4 linked regions of the Homo sapiens genome follow. The protein of the gene in region 2 purifies or fractionates together with the protein of the main gene of each other region. This does not show direct contact. Each region holds a gene or a part of one and is shown on either strand. Other genes may lie near its edges.

The links. Proteins that work in one complex are often made in the same cells at the same time.
Region 1: the proteins of SLC5A6 (region 2) and G6PC3 purify together in Homo sapiens (affinity purification with mass spectrometry; one large-scale study listed by BioGRID and IntAct). This does not show direct contact.
Region 3: the proteins of SLC5A6 (region 2) and SLC25A46 purify together in Homo sapiens (affinity purification with mass spectrometry; one large-scale study listed by BioGRID and IntAct). This does not show direct contact.
Region 4: the proteins of SLC5A6 (region 2) and PDXDC1 purify together in Homo sapiens (affinity purification with mass spectrometry; one large-scale study listed by BioGRID and IntAct). This does not show direct contact.

The regions. Positions count from the first base shown.
Region 1 is NC_000017.11:44,072,892-44,077,159, reverse strand, and holds the end of G6PC3 (glucose-6-phosphatase 3), read right to left. Parts: intron 3,001-4,268; coding exon 2,894-3,000; intron 2,481-2,893; coding exon 2,390-2,480; intron 2,192-2,389; coding exon 2,073-2,191; intron 1,851-2,072; coding exon 1,709-1,850; intron 1,481-1,708; coding exon 1,117-1,480; 3' UTR 816-1,116; downstream 1-815. UniProt on the Homo sapiens protein: Hydrolyzes glucose-6-phosphate to glucose in the endoplasmic reticulum. May form with the glucose-6-phosphate transporter (SLC37A4/G6PT) a ubiquitously expressed complex responsible for glucose production through glycogenolysis and gluconeogenesis.
Region 2 is NC_000002.12:27,204,980-27,210,263, reverse strand, and holds part of SLC5A6 (sodium-dependent multivitamin transporter), read left to right. Parts: intron 1-2,473; 5' UTR 2,474-2,613; coding exon 2,614-3,006; intron 3,007-3,321; coding exon 3,322-3,387; intron 3,388-3,729; coding exon 3,730-3,781; intron 3,782-4,170; coding exon 4,171-4,238; intron 4,239-4,759; coding exon 4,760-4,914; intron 4,915-5,284. UniProt on the Homo sapiens protein: Sodium-dependent multivitamin transporter that mediates the electrogenic transport of pantothenate, biotin, lipoate and iodide.
Region 3 is NC_000005.10:110,741,164-110,745,821, reverse strand, and holds part of SLC25A46 (mitochondrial outer membrane protein SLC25A46), read right to left. Parts: intron 3,776-4,658; coding exon 3,733-3,775; intron 2,093-3,732; coding exon 2,035-2,092; intron 1-2,034. UniProt on the Homo sapiens protein: Transmembrane protein of the mitochondrial outer membrane that controls mitochondrial organization.
Region 4 is NC_000016.10:15,035,586-15,039,147, reverse strand, and holds the end of PDXDC1 (pyridoxal-dependent decarboxylase domain-containing protein 1), read right to left. Parts: intron 3,198-3,562; coding exon of another isoform or gene 3,133-3,197; coding exon 2,873-3,132; 3' UTR 1,118-2,872; coding exon of another isoform or gene 938-1,117; 3' UTR 816-937; downstream 1-815. Other genes in the region: NTAN1 (protein N-terminal asparagine amidohydrolase), read left to right, coding at 461-574, 938-1,117.

The DNA of each region.
Region 1 (4,268 bases), on a different chromosome or scaffold from region 2:
GCTGACTCTTCCTTCCTCCTCCTCCCCAGTACCACATATACTTTCTCTCCTTCTATCTCCAGGGCCCCACCAATCTGTTTACATATTTATTATCCTATGGGGGCCTGAGCAGGATTGAGGGAGCCAGGGGAGGGGCAGGAGTCCCAGCACCATCGGTTCATAGTGTGCTTGTGTGTTTGTTTTAGATCCTCCTGGGGGATGGGGATGGGGCCAGGCTCAGTGTACTAGGCCTCTCTGTGCTGAGCCCCAGGCTCCCGGCCCCTTACCCACTCTCTCCCTGTGGCTGGTCTGGTTCTCATGTAAACCCACTCCTTGCTTTGTCTCCCTGGATATGGATTTCAGTTAAGTATTTTGTAACCCGTTACACTGTGTGTCCTTGTGTAAATAAACTTGTTTCTGGCAGTGCCTTCTGGGGCCAATGTCTCTATTCTCTGGGCTCCCAAATGGAGTAGAGGTTCTCATCCTCCTTCCTAGCCAAACACACTACTCTTTTCTCCAGCCCCTGGACTAGAAGCCGATTTAGGAAACTGGAGGTTGGGGCGCAAGATCTGTCCTGTAAGTGAAAAGACAGGGTTATACCGAATATAGTCACAGCATCTCATGGGACCTCTCATGTGGCCTAGGCAGTGATGAGGCAGGGGACCCAGGGCTGAGAGGTCTCACCTGAGTTTACAGCCCTCTCCTTTCCTGCCTCTCTGCCCCTGGAAACAGGGCTGGAGATGGCACAGAGACTACTGGAGCAGCCTGGCAAAGGTTCCACTTGTGCACACACAGGCAAGGCCCATGGAGATGTGCGCATAGGCAAGAAAGGAATCTCAAAGTATTCAAGGGCTTTATTGGGGCCGCCCTGGCTGCCCCTCACAGTGTTGCAAGAACCCGCTGGTCTTGCTGTTGCCTTTGCTCTTTGGGGGCTTGAGAGGAAAGGCAGAGGGAGGACCAACTTATCTGGGAGAGAGAAGGCCCATCTTTGGGGCTAAGACCAGGTGGTGCGGAAGCAGATTTAGGGAGGGGAGGGCCTACTTAGGGGCTGGAAGGGGATGGGGCTGCCTCCTGGAGTGTGGTGGTCACAGAGTGTTGGCTTTGTGGGAGGGAAAGGAAAGGGAGGCACACAAGAAGTCAGGAAGAGTGGATGGGCGGTGCTTCCTGGGCACTGAACATGTGCACTGCCCAGGGCACGAGGGCCAGGACTAGGCATGGCCAGAGGGTGTACTTGAGGAAATTGAAAATGTAGAAGAGGCTGATCTGAGGGGGGTGGCCCAGCCAGTCCAGGGGGCCCAGCAGCCCCATGGCCAGCACAAGGCAGGCTATCTTCTGGCCATTTCCCAGCTGTGCCCGACGCACCTGGGCATAGCAGGGAGAGTGCAAGGCAATGCCCAGGCCCAGGGCAGCCCCTGAGTCACGGCTCAGGGAGGCAAAGGGCCGGCTATCCACGTGTATCCACTCAGGCCGCTCACACCACTTGAAGGCTAGGCTGATGGACCTGTGGGGAAGAAGAGTTCTTGCCAGGAGAGGCTGGAACATAGAAGGCCACTGGCTCTTGGCCATCTGCCCTTGGGGCCCACTCCCATGTTCTGTTTTGTGCCTGTGAGGGTCTATGTGAATAGGTAATGTGTCCTTTTTTAGCTATAATGAACCAGAGACACACCAGGCTAGGTGCAGGCGAGATAGGACAGGGCCCAGCCTGCCCAGGCTTCAAAGCGAGACTTACCAAGAAAGATCCAGGCCCAGTGTAAAGAGGGTCCAATAGATGAGGCTGGTGCCTAGCATGAGGGCCAGTGCAGTCAACCCATAGAAGCTTAGCTCCCGCTCCATAGGCACTCGGGGAGTCATCAGCCAGCCCAGGACAGCGCCTAGGAGAGTGGAGTGACAACAGCTTCAAGGAGTCTGGGGATATGACCCTCCCCACCCCGACCCCCAGCTGCAGTGCAGCTTGGCAAGAGAATAAACTGAGACATAACGGGGGGCCTCTGGGGTGGGCTCTACAGAAGCTGGGAGCGATGGGAAGATCCTAGACTGATCCTCCCACTGCCAAAGGCATCCTCTCAGTCCACCCCGTTGCCCCAGTTGCTCACCAGTTATTAGGCCAGCCAGCACCTGGTGAGGGAAATGTGCTAAGATGAAGATTCGCGACAAGCCAACCGCCAAAAGGAAGGTGCAATAAGCCAGGCTAGGCATCACCCTTACCCAGCGGCTAGAAAGAAGAGAGGCAAGGAGCTCAGAGCGTGTCCATACACAGCTTGGCCTCCTGCAGCACCCAGGTACTCCATGGTTGAACCACACAACCTAGGGTCCCCAAAACTCCAGCTCCCAGGCTGCCATGCTGCTGTGTCTATTAGGTACAGGGTGCCATCACCCCTGCTCCCAATGGTGGGCAATGCCAAGGGTATACCTGCGGGCCCGAGTGGCCACCTGCGAAGACAGGGCCGTCATTATGGGCCAGAGGGCTGCTCCTGTGATCATGCAGTGTCCAGAAGGGCTGCCTGCCAGCAAATCCAGAAGCTCGTGGTGAGAAGATGGAGGCAGAACCCCGGGGCCCCTGGTGATGCCTCAATAATACAGCTGCCTTTCCTGGCTGAGAAGAGCTTTTCCCCAGCACTGATTCATAACTCGCTCTGCTCTGAGGCCTTTTTACTGCCACTTGAGGTCACTGTGCTCAGGTTTCTGTCCTGATCTGTGTCTCTTGGCTGTCCTCTATACAAGGTGGGCAGCTGGTACATAGCATGAGTGCCCTCCTCCCATAACTCAGCTTGGTCTCCCTGGGGTTCTTTTGTTCTCTGCGCCAGTAATTGAGAGGCTGGTCCTTTGGTTGGGCCACCCAGGCTGAAAAGTACTCTGAAATGTTCACCCGAACCCTAACCACATTGGGAAAGGGAGAATGTTTGAGGCTTCCCACCTGGACCAGTCTCACAAGAAGAGGGGAACTGGTGAACCTGGGCTGGAGCCTGGCTGTAGTAACCAGACTCATGGACCCACCAAAAGGGCCTGTCTCCAAAAAGAAACCTGGAAGAGAACAGATGCAAGATGACTTTCCACATGCACACACAGCCAGGGGGGGTACAAGGCGGGCAGGACACAGAGTACTCTGGAGGGCCTGAGGGGTGAAGTCAAAAAGGGACTACGATTCTGTCCACTGCTCTCAAGGTATCCATGGATACCTTGCCATGGTTTTCTACCTTAGAACAGGAGAAAGAAAGCACACTATTTCTTTTCTTTTTTTTTTCCTAACCCTCAGCCTGTGGAAACACTATTTTTAAAAACTAGTCTGGGGCCAGGTACAGTGGCTCATGACTGTAATCCCAGTACTTTGGGAGGCCTTAGCTGGAGGATCACTTGAAGCCAGGAGTTCATGACCAGCCTGGGCAACATAGCAAGACCCAGATTCAACAAAAACAAAAAATTAGCTGGAAGTGGTGGTGCACACCTATAGTCTCAGCTACTTGGGAGGCTGGGCGGGCAGATCACTTGAGCCCAGGAGTTCGAGAATAGCCTGGGCAACATGACAAAACCCCATCTCTACAAAAAATACAAAAATTAGCCAGGCATCTTGGGGTGTGCCTGTAGTCCCTGCTACTCCAGAGGCTGAAGTGGGAAGGATCACTTGAGCCCAGGAGGTTGAGGCTGCAGTGAGCTGTGATTGTGCCATTGTACTCCAGCCTGGTGATGGAGTGAGATCCTGTCTCAAAAAAAGAAAAAGTGAATAAAATAAAAAATAAAACTGATACAGAGGCAAGAGATTGTGGTAAGCCGTGTGTGTGCTCTGAGATACTCAGCCGTCCCACTCTACCCCCTCTCACTGCAAGGCCAGCTCTTATCATCCACAGAGAGTCCAGGACCCAGCTCTCTCCTCCAGGCCCTCACTAACCCTCCTGCTACCCCTGCCTCCATGTCCCCAGTTACAGCCTGAATTATCCACACCTAAATTATTTAGGTGAGCCTCTCAGGTCTGAAAATGGGGGTGGGAAATGGACAGAGAAGGCTGAGAAAGAATAAGGAGGACAAAAAAATGTCAAAATCCTCTGGTCTAGCAAGTGCTTGGCTGGGCCCTGGGAACCACACAATGAAGAGGCTGCTGTGGCCAGAAAGAGAAAAGATGGGATAGCAAAAGAGATGCTGGCAGGAAGCCACGTGCTGGGGAGGGATATACAGAAGGCACTTGCCTCTCCCCTCTGAAAACTGAGCCTAGTATATATACAACAAGTGCTCACACAGAAAATGAACGGCGGTGCCAGGCGCGGTGGCTCACGCCTGTAATCCCAGCACTTTGGGAG
Region 2 (5,284 bases):
GCTAGGTCAGGTTTTTCCTGTCTTCCCTGGGGCTCTCTCAGGCCATCCAGGGGAATTCTCCATACATCATGCAAATAGAATTTTATCAGGAAGTCCCATCAGCAGAGTGTCTTTATTTCTGTACCTCCGTGTCCCATACTGGGACTTTCCTTCCTGTCTCTGGCCACCTACCTCTCTAAACCACTAACCCTATAGTTAGTTCTTTGTTCTGTGTTCTTTGCACACAGGAGACCTCTTCTTTCCTCTTACTCCCCAGTAGTTCCCATCATCTCTATCATAGCAGTAAAAACTTGCCAAAGACGAATGAGAAAACTCAGGGTGTTGCAATGTGCAAAGGCCCAGGGCATGTTTAGGTTAAACCAGAGTTTAAGCCTGTTGGGAATCTTGTAGAACATGTGATCCAAGAGTTGCCAGGTCTGATTTTCCCTCTTTATTGGCCCCAAGAGGTTCAGAGTTCAGGTTTAGTCTGCATGAGGCCATATCTTGCCAGCCAGCCAGTGTCTGCCCAAGAACACACTGTGGGAGAGCGGAAAGGCAGCCTAATCTTTCTCCTAGTGGGCAAAAGCAGAAGACATAGTTTATGTTAGTCTGTCTCTTGATTAGTTGAAATCTAAACTATGTCCTGTGAATGACTGACTGCAACACTCTGCTCCTGTCCTGGTTCTGGGAATAGTGAGGACAGGGCCCTTGCTGAACACCTGTCATAGCTGCAGACAGCACTGTTTCTCTCTCTCTTGTTTTGTATCATGCTGCATAACCTTGAGCAAGTTATTTAATCTCTCAGTTTTCTTGTGTTAACTGGAGAGTATTCGTGTCTTAATCTGAGACATGCTGTTTTGAAAATGTTAGCTTCATTATGTATTATTACTAATGTTTATAAAGCACCTCACACACTGCTGGGTTACATAGCAGGTGTTCAGCAAATGTTAACTGTCGTCATGTTAGGCTGTGTAACTACATGGCATTCTCTGGTGTTTTTTCCTCATACCAATAAGTACCCCAGAGGATTGCCTTTGAAGACAATATGATACGCTTGGAGAACAGACAGGGTGGATGGTGAATCCCTAGACCTGGGTTCTAATTTATGCTCTGACAATAGTCGGCTCTGTGCTTTTGGAAAGGTCACTTGAACCATCTGAGCCTTAGCGTGTTTATCTGTGAAATCGTCAGTGGTGGGGGGTTGGTTGTAATAGTGGTGTCCAAAGATTTAAGATTTTAAATATTATGATCCCTTCCCTCTTTCTCTGAGGATTGTGGTGTATTCTTGGGGGATTAACATTTCTTGTGCAGGAGTTAGAAAATCAACTTTCAACTTTCCCATGTTTTCAGTTCCTTCTTTCCAACTCCCTCCCGCACAGAGTGCCAAGAGTACTTTAGGCTGAAAGGCTAATCCATCTAGGAATGCTGTTGAATATGAGCTCCCTCTTCCCTGTTCTGGAGCCTCTAGGGCTGAGTTGGAGTTTGGGGGCCATAGGGTGATAGGGCCATTTGGAACACAGCCATTGGTTCCCTGAAGGGGCCAGAACAAATGACTGCTGAGCTTCACCCCACCCCCAATTCCTGATCTCTCACCTCAGCTACTCATAGAGCCAGATCCTCAGCTCTGCAGCTCCAGGCAACTCTGCCTCAGAACAGGGATTGCTTCTCCAGGTAGGTGTCTGTCCCCAGCAGGATACGACCACTCTCTTTGGCTGGTCCCTTTGCCTCTCAGCTCCGTGACTGGGTTGCTTCTCTCCAGAATGGAGAATCGTCATTCTGAAACCCTGACTCCAGCATGGTGCCCTCTCACCTTTCCCCTCTCACTTTTGAATCCAGCCGCTCTTCCTGCGTCTGCTGTTGACTGTGATGTTGCAGGTAGAGGGGCTGAGAGGTGGGTGGCAGCACTTATCTAGTGGTGTTGGGGAGAACCTTAAGAAAGGGGTTGGCCTGGGGACGCCTGAAATGGAGTCTGTGGCTGCCACAGAGGCAGTCTCACTGATGATCAGTTAGAAGGGTGACACTGGGGATCACAGGAGGCGAGGGCCGAGGCCAGGGGCAGTAGGGGAAGCCCTGCTGCCATTAGTCTCCATGCTGTGTTTCCTGCTGGGCTGTGGCGCCAGGCTGGGCTCTGCTGGCTTAGTGTATTGTAGTGACTGGGTCTGTGCCTTCAAGTGGGGCTGGGAAATTCTGCTAAGAAACTTAGGCTAGAGTTTATTTTTCTTTTGGTACTCGGGTGGAGACCTAAGAAGGTTGTTGAATTTCACAGCTGTGCATACTCAAAGGTCCTGGCCAAGTTATATTGTCTCCTGGCTGTCGCACTCTGATGCTTCTCCCTCACTTATGTCCCCTACCAAACCCATACCAGGGCCTCTAGACCTTGAAGGGCTACCACTATGCTGGCTGGTCCACTTCTGATGGCATGCGATGTACAAGGCCCAAGGGTGAATGGCTACCAAGGCCAGATAGGCCTCACTAAGAGCTAATTCCTTTGCAGCTCACCCTGGACAGTATCACTCCGTGGAGGAAGACTGTGAGACTGTGGCTGGAAGCCAGATTGTAGCCACACATCCGCCCCTGCCCTACCCCAGAGCCCTGGAGCAGCAACTGGCTGCAGATCACAGACACAGTGAGGATATGAGTGTAGGGGTGAGCACCTCAGCCCCTCTTTCCCCAACCTCGGGCACAAGCGTGGGCATGTCTACCTTCTCCATCATGGACTATGTGGTGTTCGTCCTGCTGCTGGTTCTCTCTCTTGCCATTGGGCTCTACCATGCTTGTCGTGGCTGGGGCCGGCATACTGTTGGTGAGCTGCTGATGGCGGACCGCAAAATGGGCTGCCTTCCGGTGGCACTGTCCCTGCTGGCCACCTTCCAGTCAGCCGTGGCCATCCTGGGTGTGCCGTCAGAGATCTACCGATTTGGGACCCAATATTGGTTCCTGGGCTGCTGCTACTTTCTGGGGCTGCTGATACCTGCACACATCTTCATCCCCGTTTTCTACCGCCTGCATCTCACCAGTGCCTATGAGGTGAGCAGGGACAGAAGGGAGAAGTGCGTGGGACACGGGTTGGGGTGGAGAGGAGGGACAGGCACATAGGAAGGACCTGGGACCCTAGACCTCCTCCACCTAATGAGAGGGACAGAAAACTCATTGTGTGTTTATAATTCTTTCTCAGTGATGTTAGGTATAGGGGCAGGATTGGAGAGGAGGGTGCTATGCCGAGTAGGACTCAGAGTGGGTATGGGTTGGATATTCCCTCATGTTCCTGAGCATCTTGAGGGAATTTGTCTGTGAGTTGTCGGGGTGAAGTCAGGAGAAAAATCTTTTTTTCTGTATACCCAGTACCTGGAGCTTCGATTCAATAAAACTGTGCGAGTGTGTGGAACTGTGACCTTCATCTTTCAGATGGTAAGCAGAATGAGGATAGAAACCGAGCCTAGGGCATGTTGGGGGACCTGAACGCAAGCATGCTGAGGGAATTGGAGTCTCCCCTGCTCTCAGATTGGCAGGATTGAAATTCCTGCTAGAGGTTAGCATCTGTGAGGACCCCAGAGGCATCCTGCTGCCCATGCCTTCCAATTCCAGCACAGATACTGTGGTGGCAGCAAGCCAGAATTTGAGAGGAGAAGGAAGAGGGAAGTGAGCCTAGGTGAGGGGAAGCCATGGGCATATTGGCGCTGAGGCCCATCTTTCTTCCTCTCTCTTCCCACCATTCTCCGGCCCCCATCACATTTTTTCCACATGCAACAGGTGATCTACATGGGAGTTGTGCTCTATGCTCCGTCATTGGCTCTCAATGCAGGTGAGGAGTCACACAGCCCCTGGCTTTCAGCCGTGGTAGGTTAGGAAAGCACCTTTGGGAGAGGCAGATGGAGGAGCGTATGTGGAAAAGAACCTGACCTTGAATGGGGAATTAATTCACCGCTTGGGCCCTTGGGTGGGTCTCTACCAGAGGAAGGCTTGGTCCACCTCAATTGACAGCTAGTAACATGTTACCATGCCCTATCTGAACTGGTTAGTCAATATCTTTTGGTGGAGCTCTGCAAACATTTTTCTCCGTTGTGGTGAATGATTTATTTCATTGTTAATGACCAATGCTTTATCTCTGTGGCATGACGTGATTGCCCTACCAGGGCTTCTCCCCTGGGGAACCCTTTTCCAGGGATAAGAATGTGGCTTCTATGCTTACAGTGACTGGCTTTGATCTGTGGCTGTCCGTGCTGGCCCTGGGCATTGTCTGTACCGTCTATACAGCTCTGGTAAGTGCAGTAAGCCGTGGTGTGGGGAGGGGAAGGGATGAAGTAAGGAGGGGACATGGGAAGAGAAGGAAAAGAAGAGATAAGCTGAGAATATAGATGAGGAGAATAGGTGAAATTCTGGGGTGGTAAGATTTATGATAGGATTTAGCAGTGGGGATGGTATATGAAGGTAGAGGATGGGATGGGAATGATGTCAACAGGGTCACAGCAATTACATGCCTAATGGCAGGAGAGTCCCCTCACTGGTAGTATGTTCTTAGGGTGGATGGTTTCAGGAGTGTCCAAGGGAGAGAATATAGTCATGGGTTCTTAGTTTCTGTTTCTGGTTGGGTCAGTAAAGCCCCTTCGTCATCCCTCTTTTATACATATCACCAGAGACAGAAACTAAAAACTGGCTTCAGGCTGCAAAAAGCCTAAAACAAAACAAAACAAAACAAAATGGAGCAACAACAAAATAAGGCAGGTTGGACAAGCTGGGTTTAGAAGGCCTCTGTGGCAGGTTTGCTGTGCTTTCCTTGCAGGGTGGGCTGAAGGCCGTCATCTGGACAGATGTGTTCCAGACACTGGTCATGTTCCTCGGGCAGCTGGCAGTTATCATTGTGGGGTCAGCCAAGGTGGGCGGCTTGGGGCGTGTGTGGGCCGTGGCTTCCCAGCACGGCCGCATCTCTGGGTTTGAGTAAGTATACCCCTACTCCTGGCTGGGGTCTGCAGTGCCTGGGCGCTGAGCCCATCCTAGAGGCTGGTCTTGGCTATAGTAAGCAGAAGGTAAACTGGGAAGCCTGAGGTGTAACAGCAGACAGTGGGAAACTGGTCCTGCAGAGATGGAGGGTGATTACAGGTGCCCGGCTAGTGTTTATAGAGAGTCAGGACATTACCTGGGATGAGTACCTGGAATGAGCCTGGGGTGGAAGAATGGAGCCTCCCTCTAACTGGCTGTGCTGTCTCTCGAGTGCACCCAGCTTCTTGCTTTCAGTGTCCCCCTTGGCCCTAGCAGTGGTGTCTCTCCTTTCCTGTCCACTGACTCCTGTTGCCAAGAGGGCAGGAAG
Region 3 (4,658 bases), on a different chromosome or scaffold from region 2:
TCATAAAACATTTAAAAATAATATATTTGTTACTTATATGTAATGTATCCATTGGATCTCCATGTTAATATTACTACAATGTAAAATATATATCTGAAATACACTGTTCTGTGGCACATACAGTCAATGCTACTTTAATGGTATTTCTGTATACATACTTTTCAGTGCTAAGCATGAACAGATTAATTTATAATGATTTATACTGTTTTGAACTCTAACAGCTAACAAATACAGGAAGCATTACTTTACAGAGAAAGTGGGTTATAACAGGACGGGCGCAGTGGCTCACACCTGTAATCCCACCACTTTGGGAGGCTGAGGCGGGCGGATCATGAGGTCAGGAGATCGAGACCATCCTGGCTAACACGATGAAACCCCGTCTCTACTAAAAATACAAAAAATTAGCTGGGCACGGTGGCGGGCTCCTGTAGTCCCAGCTACTCGGGAGGCTGAGGCAGGAGAATGGCGTGAACCCAGGAGGCGGAGTTTGCAGTGAGCCGAGATCATGCCACTGCACTCCAGTTTGGGCAACAGAGCGAGACTCCGTCTCAAACAAACAAAAAAAAAAAGTGGGTTATAACAGAGTTTGCAAGTGGGGTCCACTGACTCCTGAGGGCCCCATTACCCTTTCAGGGGCTTGACAAGTTCAAAATTATTTTCCTAGTGATTACTAAGATATAATTTCCTTTTTTCACTGTCTTGACATTTTCACTAATGGTACAAAAGCAATGGTAGGTAAAACTCCCAGCTCATTAGCACAAATTGAGGCAGCACCATCAAACTGTATTTTCGTACTTACAGTAATTTTTCACCTCATTTACCCATAGAGAGAAAAAAGCAACCTTCATATAGTAATATCCTTGACAATGAAGTAACAAAATGTTAATTTTATGAATCCTTGACCTTTGAGTACACATCCTCTTTCTAATTAATATCCTGTGTGTTACATAAGGAAGTAAGATTGCTGTCATGAGGAAAGCACTTGTATGATAGAACTGCAAGCTAAACTAGCCACTTTTTTCACGGAACATCATTTTTACTTAGAAAAACTCATTGACGGACTATACCTATTCACTTTCAGGACAGACATATTTTAAAAAATAAACAAAGTGAGATTGTTGATTAAAACAAAAATAAATAACAGTATTTACTGTCAATGATAAGTTTGAATTTTCAACTAAAACTCAGAATTTTGGAAAATCTATATGCATCGTCAAGAGCTGACAATACTTATAGACTTTTCTAGTGAGATCAGTAGTATTTTTAATGAAGATGATTTTTTGATATTTTATAATCAAATGTTTTAACAACAGGAAGATCTATGTAACTCAATTGGTCAATATTTTTCAAATAACTTATGCACAATTACATGGAATCAGGCATAAGTAAAAATATCTATTCAAGATGCAGTATAGTTAAATGGATTTTTTAATGTAACAAAGTATAAAAAGTTCACTAAAATGATTTCTGATTTCACATTGCAAATAACCTTTAAGAAACTGCGACACAGTGAGTTTTGGTGCAATTGCAAAGAATACCCACAATTATCTCAAAAGAATATAATATACTCCTCTCCTGCTTTCAACTATACATGTGTACAAGACTAAACTTCCTTGCTTCTTTCAAAAACCACGTGATGCAACAGATTGACTGCAGAAGCATACGAGAGAAACTGGCTCTCTCCTATTATGTCAGATATTAAAGATATTTGCAAAAATGCAAAATAGTTACTTTCATAAAAACATATTATCTTACTAACAGGTGTTATTATTTTAATGAATTATATAGATGCATTGAAATTTTCCCAATTTTAATTTCTGAAATGGTAACTATCAATAGATATGACCAACATAAACCAAAGTTATTTAGGATCCTCAATATTTTTTTAAGACTTTAAAGAGGTTTTGAGACCAAAAAGTTTGGAACATTTCACATGAAGTAACAATTACCTGGTTTCATGTCATTTATGTGAGTTCTGCCCTTCATATTAGGGTCAGAAGTATTGCTTCAAAAGATCACAGAAATTACATTTACCTGACATTGGCGGCGTAGAACAATGCAAGGATGTGCCAATACATTTTCTGTAAAGAGACTATATAAAAATAATTTATGTATATGTATGTCTACATAGAGATAAATTAAATTTACAACAGGTATCTTTCTGAAATTATTCTTGCCTGAAGAATCATGCATTATTTTATGTTTTCCATTCTTAAACAAATTAAATAGATCTTTAAAAATGTCTAGAAATGTTTGCAAATGATTCTACCCATAACGAAATTCAATATGAAAAGAATGAAAACCAGATCTGCATACTAGTAAATAAGGGAAACAATACATAATACATAATATTAATGTCTATAGTATAAGATGAAACTAGATCTCTGAATGTTTAATGTGGGAAATGGCACATCAATTAAATGGCATTTAATGCTGCAAATTATTTCTTTCAGAAAATGTCCTAATAACAGAATTCCTATCAGCAGAGTCATTTGATCTTCATGAACCCCATTCTAAAAATGTTTGGTTTTGGTGCACTTAAATTATAAGGTTTAAGTATAAATTTAAGTATAAATCTTAAATTATAAGATTCTTAATGACCATGTTAATTGACTAATATTTATGTATCAAATATTTATTTTGAGAATGTGCCCCACAAAACAATTACAGCTGTGGGTTTCAGGTCTCAGAGTGACATATACATACATGTGCACACATATTTATATGTAATAATAGTCTATCAAATGAATCAAAGCTTTAAGTATAAATATTGAAGCAAAAAACAACTCCAGCAGAATGGAAAACACAGATTTTATTTATATTGACATTAACACCCTCGGGTTTAATTATGCAAATAAGGTGTTTTTCTTCGTTAAAATGTTTAAAATAATGATCATTATGGCATGAAATGTAAGCTTTGTGCAATTCCAATATTTTTGAAAATGGTATTCACTAAGGATCACAATAATCAAGACTAAAGGATTTTCTTAAAATGATCGTTAGATATAAAAAAAAGTAATGCTATCACCAAACGCTGATTATGAACAAAATCTAGATGCTATGTTGCTAAATATCTTGTAAGCATTAGAGTGTTTAGAAAGAAGCCTCCATGCACAATTACTTTTTTGATGGGAGACAGACAGATTACATTTCATTTTATTCTTTGGATAGACCCATGAAAAGAATGAAAACCAGATCTGCAAACAGGTAAGTAAGGGAAACAATATATAATACACAATATTAATATCTACGGTATAAAATGAAACTAGATCACTGTATGTTTGATGTGGGAAATGACACGTCAGTTACATGGCATCATTAAATGCCATGTAATTTTTCTTTCAGAAAATGTCCTATGAAAAAAGTTCTTATCAGCAGAGCCATTTGATCTTCATGAACCCCATTCTAAATTATTATTTTGATGGGAGAGAGATAAGATTACACTTCATTTTATTTTTTGGATAGACCCATGAAAACAGTTACAATACTCATTACAAAATTACTTTGTGTTTATAAAATTGGATGACTAGTCTATCCTTACTGGAAAAACTATCAAATTATATATTTTAAATAATGGTCATTTTTTTTCTGCAAAATATTATTCAAAATTTAAGCTGCTGCTTCAAAGAAACAACCTAAAGGAAGCAATAATAATCATTTAATATTGTAAATTAAAGAAAAACTCTAAATTCAATAAATAAAAGCTGTAAACGTCTTTAGATAAAACATTACCTTGCAAGTCCAATACCAAATCCAGCAAATCTATTCAGCTGTTCTAAAGTAAAAAAAAATAGAAATAAAAAAATAAGATTACTGATAACCAATTACTGACAATTTAGGTTTAGTCTCAAAACAATTTTAAAAAATTTATTTTATTAACCTGCTGTTCATTTAAACCTCAAAGTCAAATTCTGATAGGGGCCAGGTAAATAATTTAAATGAATGAAGGACTCTGCTGGGGTCTGTGGCAAATTGCAAGGTGTAGAGTGTTTAAAGCACAATTACGCTTTCACTCCAATTCATTGTTGCCACATTAGAGTGTGGGCCCAGGGTTTTGAAGTTGTAATTTTTTCAAAAAAAGATATTCTCATTTTATATAAAAGCTTCCAATTTTAAAGTCCTGGACAACTATTTCAAAAACTGTTAACACATTGTCTTGGCCTAATGAAACAAATATCCGGACAGAACCTAAGGGCTACCAGTTTTCAGCTTCTGATTCCAATCAAATAAAAAATTTTCCATGGTTGGCCGCAGCTGATATTCCACCTGCGACTTTACCTCTTATGCTGTAAAACTAGTTATTCACTGTTACTGACGGAGAGCACTTTATTAAACCAATAACTACAAGTAAAGCACCTCTAAATTATTAACTTGAAAGGGTACTTAGGGATAACCAAAATGGGTAAATACAGCTCTCCCCCATCTCTTCAAGTTTTAAATAGTTTGAGGCTAGCTGTTTAATTAATTGGAGTAGGTTACTGGATACCTAAATGCTACTACAGATGGTATGTCTGTTATGTTACTGGAAAAGTTCACAGCTGGGAACATTCCTATGCATATGTCAAAAGAGAAAAGCCTTTCTTCTTGACTAAACTCAAAGTCATAGTGGTGAACTATTACAACCCCAGGGGACCAGACATCAAATTCTAACTATAATA
Region 4 (3,562 bases), on a different chromosome or scaffold from region 2:
TTTGGCAAATTAGCTTCTTCTTTTGATGGGGCAGCAGGCACTGTATGCTTTTAAATTGCAAGGTGATCAGTTGTTTGGGGTATAAATAATGAGGCAATGGGAACACAGACTTTAGTCAGAAGCGCCTGGGTTTGAGGTCCAGCTCTGAGGCTTACTGGACACGTAACCTGGGAAATGGGCCTTGTTTCTCTGAGCCTCAAGTTTTCACCCCAAATGGGAAAAAACACCCTCGTCCTGTGGGACTGCTGTTGGCGCTCAGCAGTCGTGCGTGCCCCACAGTGTGCAGAAGCAGACACACTGGACGTGTTCAGTAGCTGGCAGCTTTTGTTATTTGAGACAGGTTTTAAGAAGCTTAGGCAGATAAATGCATGAAAGGACTACACTGGAGCTTGCGTTACTGGGAGGGTTTGAAAAGTGGGTGACATTCCTGAAATTCTATCCTTGACACGTTCTTTTTTAGATGATTAGCATTTATGATGCAGAGACAGAACAACTTCGTATAGGACCGTACTCCTGGACACCATTTCCACATGTGGATTTCTGGTTGCACCAAGATGACAAGCAAATACTAGAGGTGAGAGTTTACAGGCTGGGTAAGTCTTAAATCTCTGCACCCTGGTTTCCCCATCTGTAAGAAAAAAAGGGTTTAGACCAGGTCATAGCTGCTTTCCCTTTGGCGGGTAGTAACTTTTTGGATGCCATTGACAGACCCCATTTAACTTGTATATCAAATGGGGATATGTCAAGTCCTAGATGGAAATGTGTGTGGGTAAAGCAGTAAGCAATCAACTTTTTTCTTACTAATTCAGGCCACCTCATTTCTTAACGTATTTTATTATATATATTTGTGTCCAAGAACAAAGATACTTTGACATCTTTATCACAGCAGGGGACAGTAAGGTTGGCTTCTCTAATGCCCACCATCTTGTGTTTTCAGAATCTTTCCACTTCGCCTCTGGCTGAGCCACCCCACTTTGTTGAACATATTAGATCTACCTTGATGTTTTTAAAAAAACACCCATCTCCAGCTCACACACTGTTTTCTGGAAATAAAGCCCTACTCTACAAAAAAAATGAAGATGGCTTGTGGGAAAAGATCTCTTCTCCAGGAAGTTAAAAAACATGAATTACCAAAGAAAGCACCTTCTTGGCCTGACAGACCATTGGTGGGGCTGGCACGAATCCAGATCTGGATCCTACATCTGTTGGGTCTTAGGCCTCCTTCCCTCCTCAGTGTCTTTCAAATGACTTTCATCAAATGACTTTCAAAATAAAACCTTATTTTGGCAAAGGCATTTGTTGAGACTTATTTTTTGGTTTACTAAAAAATTGATGTCCAGTTTTTTTTTTGGTCGGTAATAACGGGCAGAGGAGAACCTACCTCTCACTGGTCTATCGGCAGCTATTTCAGGTACGTGGGTAAGTCTTTTGTAATAAGATTTATAAACTGAATTCACTGGTAACAATTTCAAGAACCTTTATTGAAACCAACATTCAAATAATATCTCAAGGGTGAAATGTTTCAGCAAAACCAATTTAACAATTCCAAATATATATAAAAACATGTAATTTTCTTGAAGGTGATAATTTACCCCTCCCCCATTTTATCTGCTATACTTCATTGCACCAAATAGGGAAGACTGTTTAATCATCTGCACCAAAAAAAACCCCCTGCATTTTGACAAGTGTAAATGTCAAAAATCCCATCAAATCAGAGTATAATTATAGGCTTAATATACTATAACTAAGGCTTCCAATACTACAGTCCAGAAACCCAGTGTGAATTTTCCCATTTTCAGGTCTCCCAAAAGCTTGACTGCTGGATTAAGAAGGCACAGGGGCCATTACTTACGACAAAGTGACGCAGTACTTCGGAAAAGTAGGAACGGGCAGTGCCAGCGAGCTTCTACTGACTTAAGCAGGGTGCCCGGCTGGATCAGCGTGAGAGAGTGCTCTGCTGGCTCCTGTTTCTGAGTTGGGCCCAGGCGAGCTGCCAGGGCAGTAGAAGCTTCAGTGGGAGACAGGTCAAAGGGGTACTTGTTTTCAGATTTTAACCAGGTGGGTGCTACGTAGCACACGGAAGAGCAAGCTCTTAAGGGTAGCATCTATCAGGTTTTCAGATACTAAACAGAAATGAGCACAGTCTGTACTTGTGTGCCAATTTTAAAAGCTTTGCCAGTATTTAAAAATATATGGTCAGGAGGAGACTTTACAGTTTCTCTTTACAAACGGTATATAATGGGAGAAATGGCCTTGTGGCAGAGGACAGTCCCAGACAGCAGCCTTGCCACAGCTCAAGTAGACACAGTCCTTACTAAGTCTCCACGAAGAGCAGTAGCTGGGGAGGGCTTCTGATGCTCTTATTTACAATCCCACAATCACTGCTCTCCTTCAAGTCTAGCAGTCCCACTGTATATTGCAACTTGATCGTACTAAAGACCGACAGCAAAGGATACAGCCAGTCTCGCCTCTGTGAAGTGTTGCAGAGAACCTGGAGAGTGCTAATGAAAAGCTGTTTTACCAAAAAGTTGCCACGGGCAACCTCATATACTTAGGCTTATGTTTAGAAAGAGCAAGGGTGCTACTGGTAGACACTTGAAATTCGAAGTGTTTTTTGTGAATAAAATGTGTTTATGGTAACTTAGGGAAAAGTCGTAGTAGGACAGCAAACGTGGTTCTACATGTACATGAAGTTAGACAAGCTGACTCCCCTCCTAGAAAGCCTACCTTTCAGGCACATATTTGTGCCAAAATCCCAGTGAAGCACAAACAACAGTAATTTATATTAGTATGTGGCACAGTTCACATTTCCAATAGAACTTCATCTTCCCTGAAACAATACTCAGTACAGTCTCAAACCACACAATGAGTCTCATCTTAAGCTCTCCGGTCCTTCTACCTGTGAGTGGTCATCTTCTGGGTGTGGGACCCCTTTCTGGAAGGCCTCGGTCTGGTCGGTGTGCTGAGGGCTGGGAGCCCCTGGGTGTCCCTCAGTGCTGCTGGCCTCGAGGGTGATCTGCTCCGGCCCACTGGATAGGCGCTCCACCTTTTCTAAGTCTTCAATGTGACTGACTGAGCTGGTCTCACTCAAAGCATCTGAACCTCGCAGGGACCTTTTAAAAGGCTTCTGGCCTACAGAAAGGGCAGACAGACTGCGCTGAAACTCAGTGAGGATACTTCTGCAACACAGGCTGTCTCTGCAACAGATAATTGCTTTATTTCACAACACAGCTTCAGCAGAAACCTTTACTGGCTCTGAGGTGTTTTAGGAGATGAGAAAACCGAGAGCTGCTAGCTTGACACCAACATGCTCCCCAGGCCGGGGAACTCTAAGGTCATCTTCATTAGGAAACGCCCAGGAGGGTAAACACCACAGTGACAATGTCATCTTTCAAGACCCCAACTTCCCCTTAGCGCACTACCGTGGGATTTCTTCAAGGCTGAATCCCACGGCTACCAAGATGGTTAAAGAGATGGTAGTAGTTGGTCTTAAGAGAAATAGACCTCTGGAGTTCAAGAACCCAGAAAACAAACGCAAGTAACAGTCAACAGGGGAAACCTG